Linked DNA regions of Homo sapiens: region 2 is linked to region 1. Evidence: fine-mapped expression QTL. Tissue or cell type: whole blood. Region 1 holds a variant in brackets; the other region holds the start of a gene. All regions are shown on one strand. Distances are between the middles of the regions. Region 1 overlaps HYCC1 (hyccin PI4KA lipid kinase complex subunit 1). Region 2 holds the start of SNHG26 (small nucleolar RNA host gene 26).

Evidence for each region. PIP is the estimated chance that this variant, and not a neighbour inherited with it, causes the effect.
Region 2: it holds the start of SNHG26, and the variant in region 1 is the best candidate, but not a certain one, in a credible set for the expression of SNHG26 in whole blood (INTERVAL, PIP 0.50).

The regions. Positions count from the first base shown.
Region 1 is chr7:22,939,748-22,943,747 of GRCh38, forward strand. HYCC1 (hyccin PI4KA lipid kinase complex subunit 1) reads right to left here. Exons shown (of 11, transcript NM_032581.4): 11 at 1-4,000. Among named protein-coding and RNA genes, the nearest start is that of HYCC1, 72 kb to the right of the region's middle. The variant G/A (reference allele first, on the strand shown) is at 2,089.
Region 2 is chr7:22,851,670-22,856,180 of GRCh38, forward strand. SNHG26 (small nucleolar RNA host gene 26) reads left to right here and starts at 2,571. Exons shown (of 5, transcript NR_146320.1): 1 at 2,571-2,611. RefSeq lists a silencer at 2,386-2,845 and enhancers at 2,943-3,554, 3,346-3,575.

The DNA.
Region 1 (4,000 bases):
CCACTCAGCAGCTAGGTGACCTTAGCCAAGTCCTCTACCCTATTGAGAGCTTCAGTTTCCTCTTCTGTAAAATGGGGATTCTATGCACTTTATAGGATGATTTTGAGGATAAGATGATCATTTTAATTACACATATTAGCTACCACTACTATCACAATAACATAATGCAAAGAAAATAATAACTACAACTGGTTGTAAAAAATCTTTCTCTACAATTATAAAACAGTTATCTTGATATTAACAAAGTCGGGTTGTAGGAGGTGAGTCAGCTATGTGGACTACTGGAGTTACTGGAAGAGTGCATATTGTATAGGACAAAATACTGCTTACAAAATCACCACTCTGGTTCTCTACAAGTACCCTTCTAAGAGTAGTTAAGAACACATTTCCTAAATTACTTAGTTCCTTAGATGAAATGGAATTAACCAAACATATAATCAACTACAAGCCAGGAATTTTTTCAAGTGTCTAATAGGTTAATAGGTTCTGTTTTTTTTTTTTTTTTTTTTTTTTTTTTTTTTTGAGATAGAGTCTCACTCTGTTGCCCAGGCTGGAGTACAGTGGCATGATCTCGGCTCACTGCAGCCTCCGCCTCCCAGATTCAAGTGATTCTCCTGCCTCAGCCTCCTGAGTAGCTGGGACTACAGGTGCCCGCCACTATGCCTGGCTAATTTTTGTATTTTTAGTAGAGATGGGGTTTCGCCATGTTGGTCAGGCTGGTCTTGAACTCCTGACTTCAGGTGATCCACCCACCTCGGCCTCCCAAAAGGCTGGGATTACAGGTGTGAGCCACCGCACCCAGCCATAAGTTCTTTTTTCTAAGTACATGCTATAATGCAATTCATGTAATGCCACTGAGATTTCCTAAAGCCAACAAACAAAATTCTAAAATTGTACTGTTAAAGAAAACACTGAAGACTTATCCTTGATTCTTTTCCAAAGCTAACATCAACCTAACTCATTTATTGTCTCATAAATGTCTAGATACCTACCACGCACAAAGTCCTATCTAGGTACTAGGGGCATATAATCTCTGTACTCAAGAGATATAGACTCTTTCTTCTTCTTTTGCTTTTTTTTTTTTTTTAAGAGATAAGATCTCGTTATATTGCCCAGGCTGGTCTCAAATTCCTGGGCTCGAGTGAACCTCCTGAGTAGTTGGGACTACTACTCACCACACATGGCAATAAAGATTCTAAAGTTAGAAGGACAAAGTGATGTTACCTAAATTTGCCTGTGCTTCTGATATGACAAATAATCCGCCACTGGTGCATGGCCCATAGAGCTCATCTTCATCTTTGGATGAATACGAGTGGACCTGTCATACTCCTCAGCCCTATGACATGTAAAGCACAAAGCCAGGAATGAGGTCATTGTCTTATCACTTACCCCCAAAAGCTCTCAATGGCTCAACTTACCTAAGTCTTCCTCCTTTATTCTCTTCCTTCATATCAAAACTTCTGCAAATTTTTATAATAATTTTTTAAATGAGTAAACTGATCTGGAAAAAATATTTTTTTCAGTTTTTATTTCAATAAAACAAGAGGCAACACTTGTTGTATAAAGTACTACATATGGAGAACATTTACACAAATATACAAAAATTCAAAAAACTAAACTCCAGTTTATTTCCATAGCCTTAAGAAGGTAGGGAACACACAAAAATAGCCAAAGTCGTCGTTTATTCTTTAGGAATGTAAACTCTAGGAATACAATTAGAAACAAATATATTTACTATGAAAAGATTAGTATCACTAAATGATTAGAAATAAAGGTAAGAGGTACACAATAAGTTCCATATAAGAGAAAGCAACAATACGTGAAATAAAATCTTGGGTTTATGGTAAAAACTTCCTATTAAGACAAATGTACTCTAAAACTCTACTATAAAAAAACACAAAAACATCTCCCAAAATGTTCGTTGTTAGTTTCTTTAGATATGCACAAGTTACAAAGTATAGAAGACAATATATTTATGCTCTCTGATGAAGAATTTAACAATATTAAACATAAATCTGAATAACTCAAAGTACTGAGTATAATTTTACTAAGCAACAAATGTAGAAGTATAAATTCATGCTCATTAAA[G/A]GACTAGAGAGTTTTAATTTTTCATACAAAGACTGGGAGGACACTATTATACATTAATTTCTATCTACAATGCTTAAAGTACCCATCAAATTATTTTTCTTTTTAAGTGGTTTTTAAAAAATATTTTTCAGTTACATTATTCAACATGTATATATTTCCTTGATGTGCTTCCCTTTAATACAGATTTATTGTGCCTAAACGCAAATGTTAACCTGCCTTATTTTAAATATTTGTTTAAAATTATGTCTCAGAGTACATCTGTTCTCTGTAATTCAACAGTTTTAACATTTTAGTTTTATTCTTCCAAAATAGGCAAAATCCCTTAAAACTGGGATCATTTTGATCTATTTTGGTTTTAAAAATATATTTCCCTTTAATTCAACTTTTTAAAAAAATGAGTAATATTTGCTGAGCAGTTGCTTCACAATTGAAAAGAGCAATGAAATATTGCTTTTTCAAAACAAACTTCAGGCATCATTTAAATGCCGAGAATTCCAACTCTTCAAGTCTTGAGAGCTTGCCTTAAAAATTTCCATAGTGGTATACAAAGGACTCCAGGGTGCTTTCCTGTGGCTTCAGGAAGGGAAGGGAAGACATTTGCCCTGGGTAGTCTGGGACAGTCCCTTGAAAAGTCTATTTTTGTTTCTCTCCCCACTTGGATTCCAAAAAGCTAGTGCTGGCTCCAGTGCCACCAGAATACTCCAGGCCGTTGGGTTTTCAAATGTGAGAGGTTGGGTGATTTCAAGAATCTATAGAGATTTAAAATGTGCAATGAAGCCACAATTTCTGTTCAGATCCTCTGAAATATGGGGTGCAAGACCCCAATTTTGTGTGGAATCCTTCTCATGATAAAAATATTATTCTGGATACTTAGGAGATCTGTGACCATCAGCATCTTTATAAGAAAGTGACCTACAAAAGCTACCCCAATTTTCAAATTTGAAAGTTCAGTGGGGAGAAAGTAGTATGGATAATAGTAATGGTTACCATAGTTAAGATTATCCAATTTTCATAATTTCTATAAAAACTTTCAATGTGTAATCCTTATTTGAAATAGTATCAAAGGAACTATAAAAGAATTTTGTTGTTAACGTAACTCCGCTCTCCAGAAAATCAATTAGTGCAAATCATTTGAAGCAAAAAATCAGAACCATTTCACTGAGCAAGTCTTCAGAGATTTTTTAAAAAGAATATACAAATGCAAATTTGTTGTGCAGTATATAAAAGGGTGGCACCCCTTTTCACACTTAAAATTTCAGGCATTTACAGCTCTGATTCCATTTATAGTTAACAAGAAAAATATAAAGTGTTACTTTTTTACTGCAAAAATAAGGATCATTAGCAATCTAGAATTCAAATACTTAAGAAGCCATATGTCAATATTATTAAACTAATTAATTAGCTGTCAAAACCAATGAAGATTATAATGATCTAGTGTCTGACACATTTGATCTAGGGCTGTGAGACCACTGGGAATTCTACATATTAGACGAGTAATTTGTTTGCACTCTGATACTTTCTTCTCATAAAAATCACTTGGGAACCTTGTTAAGAATGCAAATTCTGATTTAGTAGACCTAGAGTGGCATGAAATTCTGCATTTTTAACAAGATACCAGATAATGCCAATCCTACTTACTGGTCCTCAGACCACACAGCTAGCAAAGGTCTAGAGAGGTCTAAATGAGGTTCCATTACAGTGATAGAACATGAAAATCTGATCTCTCAGCTCTGTCAGCTAACATTTCCCCAAACTTATTCTACAATGTTTCCTAAGCACCTCAACTTGCTTAAAATGCCAATCTTAAAATGCCAAATTAGTTTTTAATAATACCAATACTATTAATAACTATGCACAGGGGAAATTCATTGTTAAAGAATGACAAAAAGACATCTGTAAATTCACAGTGATA
Region 2 (4,511 bases), 88 kb before region 1:
GAACACAAAACCTATTTTAGAATAAAGTGTTGAATATCTCATGTAATTTATTGAACACTGTACCGAAAGTGAAAAACAGAATGGTTGTACGGATACTTGAAGCACACTTTCTACTGAGCTACGTATTGCTTTTGCACCATCACAAAGTAAAAAAAAAAAAAAAAAACATAAATCAAACCATTGTAAGTCAGGGAATATCTGTAGTTCACCACATGTGTGAAAGACAAGTCAAATGGACAGCAAGAAAAGGAAATTCAGTAGGTTTTATCAAGCATTTACAATGTGCAAAGCCCTAGGCCAGGTACTGGGAATACAGGAATAAATTCACACTCAAGGTGACCCAAGGAAGCTACCGCCTGGGATAAAACCCCACTACTGCCCCATTATCAGCCTTGAAGAGTTTTATGGTATGAATATTGAACTGCTTTGGGGGAATAATCTCTTCCTCTGATAAGGATATTTAGATAAGGAGTTTTTCCCCTTATCTAAATATATTCTAGGCGTTTACACTGAATTCGGGGGATTCAGTAGAGAAGGAAACAGAGTTCTCATGGAGCCTACATTGCACCATCATGGCAACTCTGCATGACAACACCCTAAGACCAGCTCCACCCACCAGAGAATAATCCTAGATGACCTATTAAAGTCCCCTGCACTCTATTATCCTATGATTTTTCTGTAACTCTCTTGGCCTCTTTGCTTCTTTCCTCTCCTAAATTTCATGCAGCATATGAGTTTCCTGCTGGTCATGCTACACTCATTGTACTAATAGGTACCTCTTCCTTCTGGAAGCCTTTCCTGTAGCCTTAGCAGGCTGGGCTTTGTGGCTTTATGCTGTGCCCTTGGCACTCTTCATGGGCTTCTATCAGTGGGTGAATCTCATTTTATATTCCTCACTTTAGTGCAGGGGCAGTTTCTCATTGAACTTCACACCCTCCAACACCAATCACAGCACCTGGCATAGAATAGGCACTCAATAAGTATTTGCTGCACTGAGCAATCTGTAGGGGCCAACATGGAAAGTTTTCCCTTTGCCCTCTTAAGGTTCACTAAAAAATCAACTTGCAAAAGGCAGATTAATTGGAGAAAAAGCATATAAATGTATTTAATGTGTATACCCGGGATCCTTCAAATGAAGACCCAAAGATACAGGGGAAATTATCCATTTTTATGCCTAGGTTCAACAAAGTATGGGCAGTGACGTAGAAATGTGATCGGACAAAAAGTGTATGATCTAAGACTAATAGAGGGAGAAAACCCAGCAAGGCCTGTCTGTCTGGATTCTTCTTGGCCTCTCTGAGCATGCACTCTTTCCTTCTGGGTATGGGACAGGACTCCCTCTGGAATGGGGGTCTTATGACCTACAGTCAAACAAGGGAAGTCAAATAATGTCTTTATGGCCAGATTTTACACAGAACGGCAGAGGGAAAGTCCCCACAGTCCTTGTATTAATTCCCTAGGGATGCCTTAACAAAGCACTCGGTGACTTAACAGAAATGTTTTGTCTCACATTTCTTGTGACTAGAAGTCCAAAATCAAAGTGTCAGCAGAACCAAACACCAAGCTCCCTCTGAAATCTGCAGGGGAGGGTCCTTCCTTGCCTCTTCCTAGCCTTTCTCCGGTGGTGGCCGGCAATCCACCGCATTCCTGGGCTTACAGCTGCATCACTCTGATCTGCCCCTGTCCCGCCACATTTTCGTGTGTCTCTGTCTTCAAGTGGCATTTTGACACCGTGTGATAAGGACATCAGTCATGTTGAATTAGGAGGGTCCACCCCAATGATCTCGTCTTGACCACATCTGTAAAGACGCAGTTTTTCCAAGTTAGGTCGCATTCACAGGTGCTGGAGGTTAGGTCTTCAATGTCTTTGGGAGTGGGGACAAATTCAGTCCTTAACACTCATGTTCTATATGTAGTGCTGCTTAGGCATCCAGCCAACAGACCTGCTTATTTTACTGCAGTCAGAATACCTTCTCCCCTTCCTCCTCACAGTCCAATGACACAGACGTGCTTTGGGGGCAAGATATTTGCGGGCCGTGGCCATCATTCTAAGCATGCAGCACTCCAGGCACCAGGAGTCCTCCCCGTGCTTCAACCCCTCTTCGATGAGTTTGCACCCCCGACCTCCGCTAATGTTCACATCCTTTAACGGGAGCCAGTCTTCTGCTACGTAATTAGACGAGTCTTGAAAGAAGCACCCAGGGGCGTGGCTGAAGACTTTAAGAAACACCAGGCAAGGGAGGGGAGTGGGTACCAGAGACACCTAACATTATTTGAGTGGCAGGAGCTTCCTCTGACCTTCAACGAGGTAAAGAGACATCACAGCCAGCGAGAGTTTGGGGCAGACTCCCCAGACTCGGAGGCCGGGGCAAAGTGGGAGCCGGGGCCAAGTGGGAGCCGGGGCCGTGTGGGGTGGGGGGGGGGGCCCAAGGCGGGGAAGGCCCGGGCCGCCGACAGGGGGCGCGCGAGGGCCTCCGGGCCCCGCGGGCGGGGCGGGTGCTGGACCCGGAGGGGCCTTCCGGCAACTTTTTGGTTGGTGCCGCCCCGCCCAGGCCCCTTTTAAACTTGATCTCCGCAGTGCCCTCCCTTTTCGGCCGCGGCGCGTGACTGGGTAAGTGGGCTCGGACCTTCTGGACGCAGGAGCCGACCACGTGGCTCCGGGGCTACCCCGTGCGCTTCCTAGGCGCGCCTCTCGCTGCCCCCACGCCGAGGCCTCGGCTCGGCGCCGCGGGGAAGCCTCCGTTAGGGCCCCTCGGGGGTGGGGGCGTCCTCGTGGCGCTTGGGCCCTTCGTCCCGGGTTAGGACGGCCCGTGTCCTTGTGCGCTTGAAGGGGCCGCCCCCTTTCCTCGAGGATCCCACCCCCACTCAGCAGAAGCCGCCAGGCGCCCGTCACCTCCCGTGCCTGAGTCCCTGCCGTCCACGCATTCGGCCTACAGGCAGCTTTTAGTCCTTTTTCAATTAAATGATTGCATTTTGAGGATCAAATTCCAACCGCAGGCGGAGGCGCCGAGCCCCGGACGGTCTCTGGGTTCTTGGTGCACTCGGGGCTCCTGCCTGCCCAGGGGCTGTGACCGCGCGGACGGAAGCCTATTTGGGAAGCGAGTGAGATCTGATGTCTGAAGCGCTTTAAGTTTCTAAGCGGGGCAGTATAATAGCGGGGTTAGCAAACACACGGAGGTCATTTCACTCGCGCAGCCATCCCCCACCGCCACCAGTGCCGTTCATTTGCTACTGGCCCGCAGTCAGATAATTTAAAGGCTTGGAGGGACGAGTCTTGCTGGAGCCGACGCCTACAGTAAGTTGAGCGGAGTGCTGTGAGCCCTAATAAGGGAGCCTGCTTTCCTCCCGAAGATTCGCTTTTTTGGGAGTGGCCAGAGCGTTATTACAGCACAGGGCCCGCTTCCAACGTTTAATCAGGGTGTGAGGAGGCCCTTCGTGGTTTTCTGACCTGGGAAAAGTCTGAACTACTGGGTTCTTTCTGGCTTGGACCAGGACAAGGTGTTGAACGCCTAACTTAGGTCTACTAAGGTGTAGAAATACGCAAGGCTGCCCCTAGAGAACGTTTGTCTGGGGAATAATGTAAGTTTTTGGAGCGGCTCTCCTGAGCATCGCTGAGCATACTAATTGTTCATTACTGGTACAAAATGCTATATAAAGGGATACTTTGCGAATTTAGTAAAATTGATAAAGATCTAAATTTACATTTGAGTCAACAAATAATCTTTGTGGCTAGCATAGGTACCACAGTTCTGTTGGAATGTGAAGCTCGTGGTTCACCTGTTTTCCTCAGTTGTGAAAGATTTGCTGCCTTTTTGATGAAACCAAATGGGACCCATTTTACCATTCTTTAATGAGGAAAGCTTGTACATTTGCAGCCTAGGTTCTAGGCATCTTTTATCCAGCGTTATAGATAGACCCAGAGCATGGACAATTTTCCCTCCCTGGAATACCTCCAGCTCTGGCGAATAGCCCTATATACAGCACAGGAAGATAGCGGTGGTAAGGCTTTGTTTTACCATTGCTTTAGGTGTTAGAGATTCTTATTGAGCCCATTTTATTTTTATTTTATTTTATTTATTTTTTTGAGTCGGAGACTCGCTCTGTCACCCAGGCTGTGGTGCAACGGCGCAATCTCGGCTCACTGCAACCTCTGCCTCCCGGGTTCAAGAAATTCTCCTGCCTCAGCCTCCTGAGTAGCTGGGATTACAGGTGCCCGCCACCATGCCCAACTGTTTGTATTTTTTAGTAGAGACGGGGTGTCACCTTGTTGGCCAGGCTGGTCTTGAACTCCTGAGCTGGTGATTCGCCAGCCTCAGCCTCCCAAAGTGCTGGGATTACAGGCGTGAGTCAGCGCACCCGGCCTGCCAAATTGTTTTTTAACTATTCAGTTTAAACTGTGAGAGACACCATGTCAAGGAAGCAGTGTGAGCTAGCGTCTAAGGATTGTGAAAACTGAGCAAGTGCCCAGAACTAGAAACTTCCCAGCCCCCTGAACTCAGCCTCAGGGTAAG